2 separate regions of the Homo sapiens genome follow, and region 2 is linked to region 1. Evidence: fine-mapped expression QTL. Tissue or cell type: whole blood. Region 1 holds a variant in brackets; the other region holds the start of a gene. All regions are shown on one strand. Distances are between the middles of the regions.

Region 1 (5,318 bases):
ACCCTGTGGTCAGAGGCTTGCTTCAGGAGAAGAACAGCCTTGGGGAGAAGGAGGTTGGGAGCCTCTGTAACACAAGGACACTCAGGACCCAGCCTGGAGAGGGGGTGCGCCAGCCAGGAACGGCAGACCCCAAGGCCCCGAGACAGGACGAGCCCACTGGCTGGATGACAGCGGCATCCTGGTGCCCACAGGGCCTGGAAGCGTAGTTCTCAGCCCTTGCAGCCCAAGACTGGGCGAAGGGGACACCGGGGTGGAAATGGCACCCTGTGGTAGCCAGCGGCGGCCCTATCACTGTGCTGGTTCTGTGAGGAGTAGACAGCGGGTGGACCTGTGGTTTGCAACACAGGAAGAGGCGGCGGCCCTATCACTGTGCTGGTTCTGTGAGGAGTAGACAGCGGGTGGACCTGTGGTTTGCAACACAGGAAGAGGTGGCGGCCCTATCACTGTGCTGGTTCTGTGAGGAGTAGACAGCGGGTGGACCTGTGGTTTGCAACACAGGAAGAGGCGGCGGCCCTATCACTGTGCTGGTTCTGTGAGGAGTAGACAGCGGGTGGACCTGTGGTTTGCAACACAGGAAGAGACTATGACATAACACATTGGAAATAAATGCCAGAGGCCCTTAAGTCCAGGCCAGGAACAGGACAGACGAGAGGCAGGGTGCAGGATTCCTTACTGTGCCACTGAAAGTGGATCCACAGCTTCCCCACCTCACTCAGCAGCCGCTGCCCAGCTCCACTGTCTCTTCCCCACACCCGAATCTCATCACCAGGAAGTCCCCCGGCCGCCACTGTCGAAGCGTATCCAGCCCTGAACTCTTCTCACCACCTCTGCGGCCACCACCCCAGCTGGGCCTCCCGCCTCCTGGCCAGATCTCTGAACAGCCCCCAACTCGTTCCCTCCTGCACCCTCCTGCAAGGTCACAGCCCTCACCCCAGCACCCCCCAGCCGACCCCAGCCCCTCGCCTGTGGCCAGGTGCACTCACTTCTCCAGGTAGATGGCAGACAGGCTGCGGACCTGCTCCAGCTTGCCCAGCGTCAGCTCCAGCTCCGAGCGCAGCGTGGGGGCCGCAGGCGATGGCTCTGGTAGGGCCAAGACCTTCTCGGCCTCGGCAGAGAGCCGGGCGACCCCCTTGCCCAGCCCCTCCACCTCTGCCTGTGCCTTCTGCAAAGACAGGGAGTGGGAACGCACTCATCACCGAGCGCAGCACACAGCGCCCCTTGAAGGCCAAAGGAGGGAGGGTGGGAGGAGGGATGGGGAGAGGGATGGGACTGGATGGGGGGGGACGGCCCCTGCCTGCTGCTCGGCGATGCGCTGGGCACACTCCCGTGCCGGCTCTTTGTCCAGCGGCAGCCGCAGGCGGTGCACGGTGCGCGTCTCACAGGCCTCCAGCTGCAGCCGGATGTCTTTGAGCTCGGAGATGCAGCGCTGGCAGCGAGACTCTTCCTGTGCACCTGGGGAACACATGTGGGTCACTCCACCGCCCACCTCGCACCAGCCCAACCGCCCCAGCCCTGCCGTGCCCTACCCTGTTCCAGGCTCTGCAGCAGCTGCTGGTAGTGGTGGCTGCAGGAGCCGTACTCGCGCTCAGCCATCAGCCGGTCCTCGGGTCCGAAGCCGCCCGCGTCCTGGCTGTCCCGCAGGAAGGCCTGGTAGTGCAGCTCCAGGCTGTGCAGGGCTTGGCGCTGCTCCTCTGGCTTCAGGGTGCGGAACTGGGGGAAGCACGTGGGGCTGAGTGCCGGGCGAGGCGGCCGTGCCCTGCACAACGCCTCTCCCCTCCTCCCACCCAGAGAGCCCCCGGCTCGGGGGCAGGCGTACCGTGGCCAGGGACCAGGAGCGGATGAGCTGCACGTCGCGGCGAAGGCTCTGCCAGGCCAGAAGGCTCTTCATGTCCACGTGCAACTGGTGCCACAGCGTGACCAGGGCCTGGTGCTGGGCCTCCAGCCTGGCAGGTCAGGGCTACAGTCAGCGTCACCAGCGCCCCACCCGCCTTCCAGCCCCCACCTGCTGAGCCCCCGCCACCCACCTGGTGACGGCCTCCTGGGCCTCCTGGTTGGGCGGGGGCACCAGGAAGCACACGGAGGGCACGGCGGCCTCGCTGCCGGAGCTGCTGAGCACCTTCCAGTGGGACGGCTGTGCAGGGCCCACCAGCTGGCACTCGTCACCCTTGTGCACAGTCACCTGGGACGGGCAGAGTCGGTGAGGACATGGCCACACCCTGCCCTGCCTGGCCACGCCCCCCAGTGGACCCCCGGCCTGCGCTCACCTCCACCTGCTTATAGTCGCACACGGCCAGCAGGGGCAGGCGGCCCCGCATGGGGTGGGCTGGGTGGCGGGGCTTCAGCTGCACGACGGCCTTGGCCCGCTTGGCCAGGCCTGAGAGGTGGCCCTTGTACTCGTTCAGCTGTTCCTTCTCGTCCTGTGGGGGAGGGGCAGCATCCAGACGAGGGCCATGGAGACCCACAGGCCTGCCCCAGGCACCCCCAGACCCCGGGACCAGGCCTGTGGGGCCCTCCTGATGCTCCCGGGGTGGCAGCACTTGGAAGCAGGAGGTATAGCTGGGACAGGCCCCGGGGGTTGGCCCCAAGCAGACCCATGCACCCTCGCTCCTTCCCAACCCAGACAGGGCACCCTCCTCTCACCCCAGCTCACCCACCA[T/C]GTCCTCCCAGCTACGCTCTGGTCCCTACAATGCCCTCGCCCCTTGCCCCTCCCCTGCGGGCTGCAGAAGGTACTGCCTCCTCCCATCCCACCCCTCTGCGGGGGCCAGGCCGCAGGACGGCACACACCTGGGAGCTGCCGGCTCTCCCCCCGGCCCAGCCCTGCCGACCTCAGAGGCCATTTCAGTCTCCAGTCCCTCTTCCCTGTCACTCCCCACTGTGCACCCGCCCTCCTGGGTGATCCCACCCCTGCTCCCAGAGCACAAAGCCCAGTTCCACTCTGCCCGCTCCAGATCTCAGGCCAAACAGCTGGTGCCCCTTCTATAGTACAAGGGCTGGCAGTGCTCCTTCTATAGCACAAGGGCTGGCGGTGCCCCTTCTACAGCACAAGGGCTGGCGGCAGCTGCTGACTTCAGGCTTCCACTCACTCTGTGGCTATGGAGATGGGGGCGGCCCGGCTTGGACCGGCTGCCTCTCGGCTCCCCACATCCTGCCTCATTCCCCCCTTGGCTGACCTCTACACCTCCCATGGTGCCTCCCAACTCCTGCTGGCCCCTCCAGTTGCCCCCTAGTCTCCAGAGTACCCATGCAGCCCAGAACATCCTGCCTCATTCCCGCTTCGGCTGACCTCTACACCTCCCATGGTGCCTCCCAACTCCTGCTGGCCCCTCCAGTTGCCCCCTAGTCTCCAGAGTACCCGTGCAGCCCAGACTCCAGGCCAGCCCCTCCTGACACGCCCCTGCACACCCCCTCCCTCACCTGGGCATCCTGCAGCAGGTCCTCCAGCCGGGTGACGGTGGCGGAGCGATCACAACTGTATTTCCTACGCAGTGCCTCCTGCAGCTTCTGCAACTGCCCCTCGGCCTCCCGCACATCTGAGAAGAACTGGGGCAGCGGGAGGGGGTCACGCCAGGCTACCTGGGACCAGAGCCCCAGCCCACAGTTGTCCCAGGGCAGGCCCAAGACGGGGGCACTGAGGAAGGAGTGGCAAAGCCCCCAGGAGGCCTGGGGAGCACCCCTGTCCAAGGCCCCGGTCAGGCTGCAGGCAGCAGCTGGCAACGTCTGCAGACAGGAGGGCTCCTGATTGGAGCTGCCGAGGGGGTCCAGGGGCTCCTGCAAGGCTGCCGCTGAGCCACAGTGCGGAGGGGGCTCCGGTTCTCACCTGAAAGTAGGCAGCGTTCTCCTTCAGGTGTGCCTCGATACAGCAGCACAGCTGTAGCATCCAGCTCCACTGCGTCTGCAGGGCCGCCTGGAAGGACTGCGGGACAGCAGGTCCCGGTCAGGCCCCGCCCCGCCCCGCCTGGGGACCCGGCACGGCCCCCCCCGCAGCCCCGCCCCTACCCAGGGAGCCCCACCTCCACCGTGGGCCGGGCCGGGTGGTCCTCCCGCAGCAGCCGGTCCCCAGCATTTTGGAGCTCCTTGATCTTCTTCTCCTTCAGCTCCAGCTCCCGCATCAGCGCCTGGCACCAGAGCAAAGGGTCTCAGGGACGGCCGGCCACACCCGGCTCTGCCACGCTCCCAGCAAACTCGACCCAGGGCCCCCACTGGTCTCTGACCATAGGGGACGGCCAGGGCACAGCTGGGGAGGGGGCTGTGGGGTTCAGGGCAGCTGGGCCACCGCTCACCGAGTAGCTCTCCTTCTTGGCGGTCATGTTGGTGTTGCGGTCGCTCCAGTCGAAGCCCACCTCCTCCTCCTCCTTCTCATTCAGCCACATTAGCTCCTTAGTGGCGGCTGCCACAAAGCTGTGCAAGCTCTCCAGGGACCTGAGGCGGGCCTTGGAGGAGTTCTGTGGGCAGGAGGGTGCGTGTCAGCAGGCCGCGGGCTACCCACCTCCCCCGGCTGGCCCTGCCCCCACTCACCAGCAGCTTGGCGTACTGCAGGTCCAGCCGACCCAGGCAGTCACGGTAGGCACCCCGGGTGGCGGGGGAGAGCTGGCCCTGCAACAGATGAGACGGTGAGGTCTGCAGTGGCTGGGCCCGGCCCACCCCCGCACTGCCCATCGCTCAGCGCCACCCACCTCGTCACTCCGTGCCCGCTCGATCTTGGCCCGGAATTCTTCGATGGACTGGTGCAGGCCTCGGTGGCTGCCCAGCTGCGCCTCCACGCTGGGCAGGTCCACACCCCACTCAGCGCCATCCACACGGTGCTGGTTCTCCTCCACCCAGGCCAGCAGGTCCTGCAGGTAGCGCAGAGTGGAGTCCTCCAGCTCGGGGCGCCTCTGCACACTCTGCAGAGTCACCTGGGCCACCTGGGTTGCAGGGGCCGCCACGCCTGCCTTCAGCCGTAGGTTGTACTCGGTGCGGATGGCTACCAGGCGCTCGTGCAGACGGTACACCCTGGGGCAGCAGAGGACTCAGGTAGGTGTTGGCGGGCCTGGGGCCGTGTGTACCTGGGCTTCAGGGAGGGCAGGGCGGGGCCCACCTGCGGTACATCTGCTCGCCCTGCGGGTGCCGTCCATCCTTGAGGGTCTGCACGTCGTTGAAGAGCAGCCGGATCATGCTATCCGCCTTGTCCAAGTCCCGTTCCACCTCCCCCGCCCGCTGTGGCACTTTGCCTGCAGCCAGCAGCCGGACATCCTGCAAGGTCGTTGCCATGACTCGGAGCACAGCTGATCCCCCTCTGACCTCACAGGGGCCCCGGCCAAGACGGCCACCCTCAGCCG
Region 2 (5,159 bases), 52 kb before region 1:
GGTACATGAGACGGCAGGACAGGCCAGCTTCTCCTTCGTCCACCTGCTTCCTCCTCCCTTCCCTTCCTGAGGCCATCCTGAGACCACTCCCGGTTACCCCTGCCTCAGACAGACTCTGCTTCTGGGAACCCAGCCTGGGCGCTTTTGTGTCCACCTCTACTGGCACCTGCCTCCCCTAGGGCTGGGCCCTCTCCAGCACGCCTCGTTCCAGGACCCTCCAGGATCTGTGAGCCTAAGGCAGCCACTCACTATGGCATCCAGGCCAGACGAGGGGCTTCTAGGGGGTCAGGGCCCTGCCCTGTCCCCTGACATCCGGCCAGGGATGGCGGTGAGGAAATGAGAGGAGCACCTGATTTCCCAGCAAGGGGGAGGGGCAGTGCGGGCCAGGGTGGGGCAGGGCCAGCGAGGGCGGGGCAGGGCCAGTGAGGGTGGGGACAGCACCTTGGGCGGGCCCCTGACCTGCGCACAGGCCGCCAGCCCAGACAGGCCGCGTGCTAAGCGGGCCTCGTAAGCTCAGGCAAGTGGCTCAAGTTCCCCAAACAAAGAGGAGATCCAGGGAGGAAGGCTGGAGACAGGGCGCTTGGGAGCAGGGAGTCGGGGGCAGGCTTGCCCTGCGTGTGTGAGTGTGCCTGCCAGTGCATGCCCCGCACCATGCGTGAGATGCGGCCTGTGGCTGGCTGCACCACTCCCTATCTCTTCCTGACCTTGGGCCTGGTATGAACCCCTCTGGGCCCTGCCCCTTCCCTGGGCCCTGCCCCTTCCCAGGCTTGGCAGGAGGAAGGCCCGGGAGTGGGTGTCTTGACTCCATGTGGGGCCTGGGAGGGCAGCTGGACAGAGGGTCCGGAGCGAGGGGGGGCAGGGGGTGCAGCTTCGAGTGTGGGGGCATCTGGAGGAGGTGGCTGCTGCCTAGGAGAGCACGGGGTCAGGGTTAGGGTGATGGGGTGGGGAGGAGGCCGAGCAGATTTCCCCGGAGCCTGAGGCACAAAGGGCCCCTCCTGTGGATTCCCCACTTCAGGTGGCCCCCAGGCCCCAAGTGGTGGAGGGCCGTTCCTGAGGAGGGTGGGTCTGCATCTCTTGGGTGAGGTCACTGTCTGTCACCAGACTGCCCGGCAGGCCCCCACCGCAGCCTGGGACAAAGGTTGGGGAGGCTGCAGCCGCCTGCCTGAGTCAGGTCAGGACAGACCCTGGCAGCTGCCTGGGCCCACACAGGAGGCAGCAGCCTTAGCTTCTGCCCGGCTGTGTGCCCTTGTGGGAAGACCCCACCCACCTGCAACCTGCACCATGATCAGAGATCAGTGGCCCCAATAACAAGCTTGGCACAGTGCAGCGGGGGCCCAGGGCAGGGAAGCAGAGCCCTGGGCCCAAGTGATGAACAGGGCCCTTCCTGCCTCTGCCTCCCACGGGTCTCCAGGCGACCGTGTGACCGCTTACCTGACCCGGAGTGGCCACCCCTGGGACCGCTCACCCAACAGCAGGCAGCTTCCCCGGATCCGTGACGCCTCCCTCCCGGCAATGTTGCCAGGAGTCACCCCTCTCAATTTGTCGGCCTAGCTGCCTCCTGGCCTGGGCGTTCCCCACCCTGCAGAGCGTGCCCCGGGCGGTCCTCGCTGCAGGGAAAACCGCTGGGCCTGCGAGACCCCCGCCCCTGGCCGCCTCTCCCGTGAGGGCTCGGGGCCGGCGCCTCCTCTTCACCGGCGCCCGGGACTCAGGGGCGCCACTTCGGACTCGGAGCTCAAATTGCCCAGGGCGGGAAACCTGCCCGGCCAGAGCCCAAGACCCCGCTGGCCGCCGCGCCCCTACCCTGGCCTCGGCGTGCGGCTCCAGCGGGGATCCGGTTTCCTTCGGCGGCCGCCGCCCCGCCCGGCCCCGAGCCCGCACCCGCACCCGCCGCACCTGCCCGCACCCGCCGCACCTGCCCGCACCCGCCGCACCCGCCGCACCCGCCGCACCCGCCGCACCTGCCCGCTCGCCGCTCGGTCCGCAGTGTCTCCGCGCGCCCGCTCCGCCCGCATTTCAAGCCCCACAGGCCCCGCCCCCGTCTAGGGCGGCGCCCAGGTCGGGGCCCCGACGCGGGGCGGGGCGGGGCGGGCAGGTGCCGGAAACCCCGCGCGGCCCGGGCCTGGCGCTTGCACCCCGGGCAAGGGGCGGCGGCTGGGCAGCCGGGACCCTCCCCTCGTCCCCAGCAGGGAGTCACCGCGAAGGAACGCAGGGCGGGCGCGGAGGCGTCCTGTGCCCTTCAGAACAGCTTTTTTTTTTTGGGAAAGGAGTTTGGAGTGAAACGCGGACCGGCCAGAGCGGCGGTTTCTATCCCCACAAGCCACTAATGCGGTGCGGGCTGGTGTCCCTGCCTCCAGCCCCGACCCCACCTTGTCTGCTCAGCTTCCTGGGGACGCTGCTTCACGTCGTGTGTCTGCTGGGTCCAGGGGTCTTCAAGGCTCTCCTTGGCAGGCCCCCCTGCCCCCATGACGTTGTAAGAGCTGGGATGTCCTGCCTGGAGCAGTGCCAGGCCTCACCCCCCGGTCTGGCTCCTCCACCTGGGCACAGAGAATGTTCCCTGTCACCCTGGGAGTACCTGGTCCCCTCTCTGAAGCCCATCCTGGCACCCACCTTCCAAGGCTGGGGCATGCCAGAGACACTGGGCATGGAGGCTCACAGCCTCGGGGGCTGGCCTGGGGGCAGCCTCAGCCTGGCACGGGAACCTTCCATGGATCTTCTGGAGGGCCCTCCCCTTGGCTGCCCCGATATCCCAGGTGGGCAGGGCCACGGAAGTACAGGGCCCAAAGCCCCTCCTCCTCTGTCCCCAAGGCCCCTCCTCCTCTGTCCCGTAGTCCTGGAGGTCCTGAGGGCTCAGGTGCTCCCCACCCCCACAAGTGCCCCCTTCTCCCAAGCTCCAGCCCCCACCTCTGCCTGAGTCATTCTTGACCAGAAAATCATCCAGAGCCAGCCAGCCACCTCCAATGCACACCATGAGGGTAATTGCAGGCGCCCACGCAGGTGCAGGAGGGACAGGTTAGGCCTTCAGGGGTTAGGGTGCTTGGGACCACTGCCCTGGCTCTGCTCTCACCCACCCACCAGGTCCACACTCACACCTGCTCACCCAGGCTGCCTGGACCCTGTCCACACCTGCCACACTGGCCGCACAGCATGGCTGCTGCCGACTGCGGGGCCCTGACCCCAGAGGAGCTCTGGTGGAACCCGCATTTCCCCAAGGCACTGCCAGGCCAACCGCATCCATCCCCAGCCCTGCTCACCGGATGCCTGGACACTGTCTGTGTGGTCTTGCTGGGAGGCATGGTGGTGCTGGCTATGGCCTGTGGCCTGGAGCACACCCCAGAGCCACTTCTTCCTGCGGTGAGCCATTGCAGGCAGCGCCCCTGCCAGGCCACAAAACCTGGGTGTATGCCAGCCCCTCGCTGCAAGAAGGGGGTGTTAGGCTGGCCAGACCAAGCCTTCTTGTGTGCCCAGGGACGGGCCACATGCCTGTCTGCTCCTCACCCCTCCGGTATAGGCAGGTGGCACAGAGCTGGCCCTGCTCCGCTGCACCCATTTCTGCCCGTCACCCCTCCAGTATAGGCAGGTGGCACGGAGCTGGCCCTGCTCCGCTGCACCCATTTCTGCCCGTCACCCCCCTGGTATAGGCAGGTGGCATGGAGCTGGCCCTGCTCTGCTGCACCCACTGGCATCTGTCCCCTGGCTCCTCTCCCTCGGCTTTGTCTTCCTGTGACTCCAGATCCCCTGCCCTGTGGTGGCCCCCAGCCCAGTGACCTCTGGGGACACCTCTGGGGGCAGACTTGGGTGCCTGCCCTACTCCCCAGGTCCCTGGGCCACTCCCAGTCAGGGCTTCTGGGAGCCACCACCTCCCCAGGGGCTCCAGTCCAGTGCTTCAGCCCAGCAGTCCCCGGAGCCACAGGCCACTCCTCCAGCCCCCAGGCCTGGGCCTATACCACCTACACAGCAAGGAAGGGCATCAGGGAGGGTGTCAGGAGGTGAGCGAGAGGGCTCCCATGCCCAGTACTGCCCACGGCTCTACCCACCTCCTCCTGGCACTGGCACCTAGCTTCCCCCTGCAGGTCAGGGAGGCTCTCAGAAGACCTGGTCCAAGGAGGGAGGTCCCAGAGCCCCAAGACCAGTGCCCACGCTGCCCCTGGGCTGCTCCATGGAGTCACCGTGCTGGTTGGAGCCTTTGGCCAGGATCCCCATTGGTCCCTTGGAGCCTGGCATGGCCCAGCTCGAAGGGGAGTGCCCGCCATTGCTCCATAAAGCATCTGGGAGCAGGGTGTCCCCTCCACGGCACATGGCCCAGAGAGGAGACAGGGCAGATGCAGGCAGGATGGAGGGCCCGGCGGGAGCGGGTGGGACAGAGCTGAGCAGCAGGCTGACCTCTCCACCAAGGGCCTGGACATAGCAGCCGGCAGCTCCAACCGCAGGCCCAGGTACAGGGGGCGGGCAGCCTTGGGGGTGAGCCTTCCTCTCAGGCTGGGTGCCCTCACAGCAAAGACATGGGCTGCTCTCCCAGTGGCTCTCAGGGGACACCTGCCATCAGGGGAGCCCAGTGATGCAGCTGCCTCCGGGGGCAGGGAAGGGCTGAGGTGGGGGTTGGAGCCCTGCTGCCTCTGTCCCCCACGGAACCACCCCCCACATCCCAAATTCTCTTTCTCCACACCCTCCTCGCTGTGCGTCTCACTGATCCCCCATCCCCAGTCAGCCAGGGTGATGACACGGGCTGGCCCAGCTTCTCCTGCCCAGGCCTCGGAAGCCGGCCGGCACGAGGAGCACAGCCTCTGCCTGCCAAAGGCCCCCATGCTGCTCGGTCAGGGCCAGGAGAGGAAGGGCCAGAGGATTCCTCCCAACTGTGGCTTGAACTCCATCCCCCAAATTCCTACGTCGAAGTCCAGACTCCAAATCCTCTGGGAATGTGACCTTCTTTGGAAGCAGGGTCGTTGCAGATGCGGTTAGTTGGGATGAGGTCATGCTGGAGTAGGCGGGCCTCATCCCATGTGCCTGGTGTGCTTTCAAAAAGGGGCATCGGACACAGACGAAGACCCACAGAAAGGGAAGATGATGTGAAGATAACAGGAAGAAGATGCCGAGGAGAAGCCTGGAGCTGGGTCTCACCTCATAGCCGCTGAGGGAAATAGCCCTGCCCACATTTCCATTTT

Evidence for each region. PIP is the estimated chance that this variant, and not a neighbour inherited with it, causes the effect.
Region 2: it holds the start of EPPK1, and the variant in region 1 is fine-mapped to the expression of EPPK1 in whole blood (TOPMed, PIP above 0.99).

The regions. Positions count from the first base shown.
Region 1 is chr8:143,928,120-143,933,437 of GRCh38, forward strand. It overlaps PLEC (plectin), which reads right to left. Exons shown (of 32, transcript NM_201384.3): 13 at 5,078-5,232; 14 at 4,674-4,992; 15 at 4,516-4,593; 16 at 4,281-4,442; 17 at 4,011-4,115; 18 at 3,818-3,913; 19 at 3,415-3,540; 20 at 2,265-2,417; 21 at 2,025-2,179; 22 at 1,817-1,943; 23 at 1,527-1,710; 24 at 1,295-1,452; 25 at 984-1,162. Among named protein-coding and RNA genes, the nearest start is that of PLEC, 8.8 kb to the right of the region's middle. RefSeq lists enhancers at 101-230, 621-870, 4,095-5,030 and a silencer at 357-486. The variant T/C (reference allele first, on the strand shown) is at 2,657.
Region 2 is chr8:143,876,480-143,881,638 of GRCh38, forward strand. It overlaps EPPK1 (epiplakin 1), which reads right to left and starts at 1,988. Exons shown (of 2, transcript NM_031308.4): 1 at 1,959-1,988. RefSeq lists a silencer at 2,042-2,131 and an enhancer at 2,698-3,340.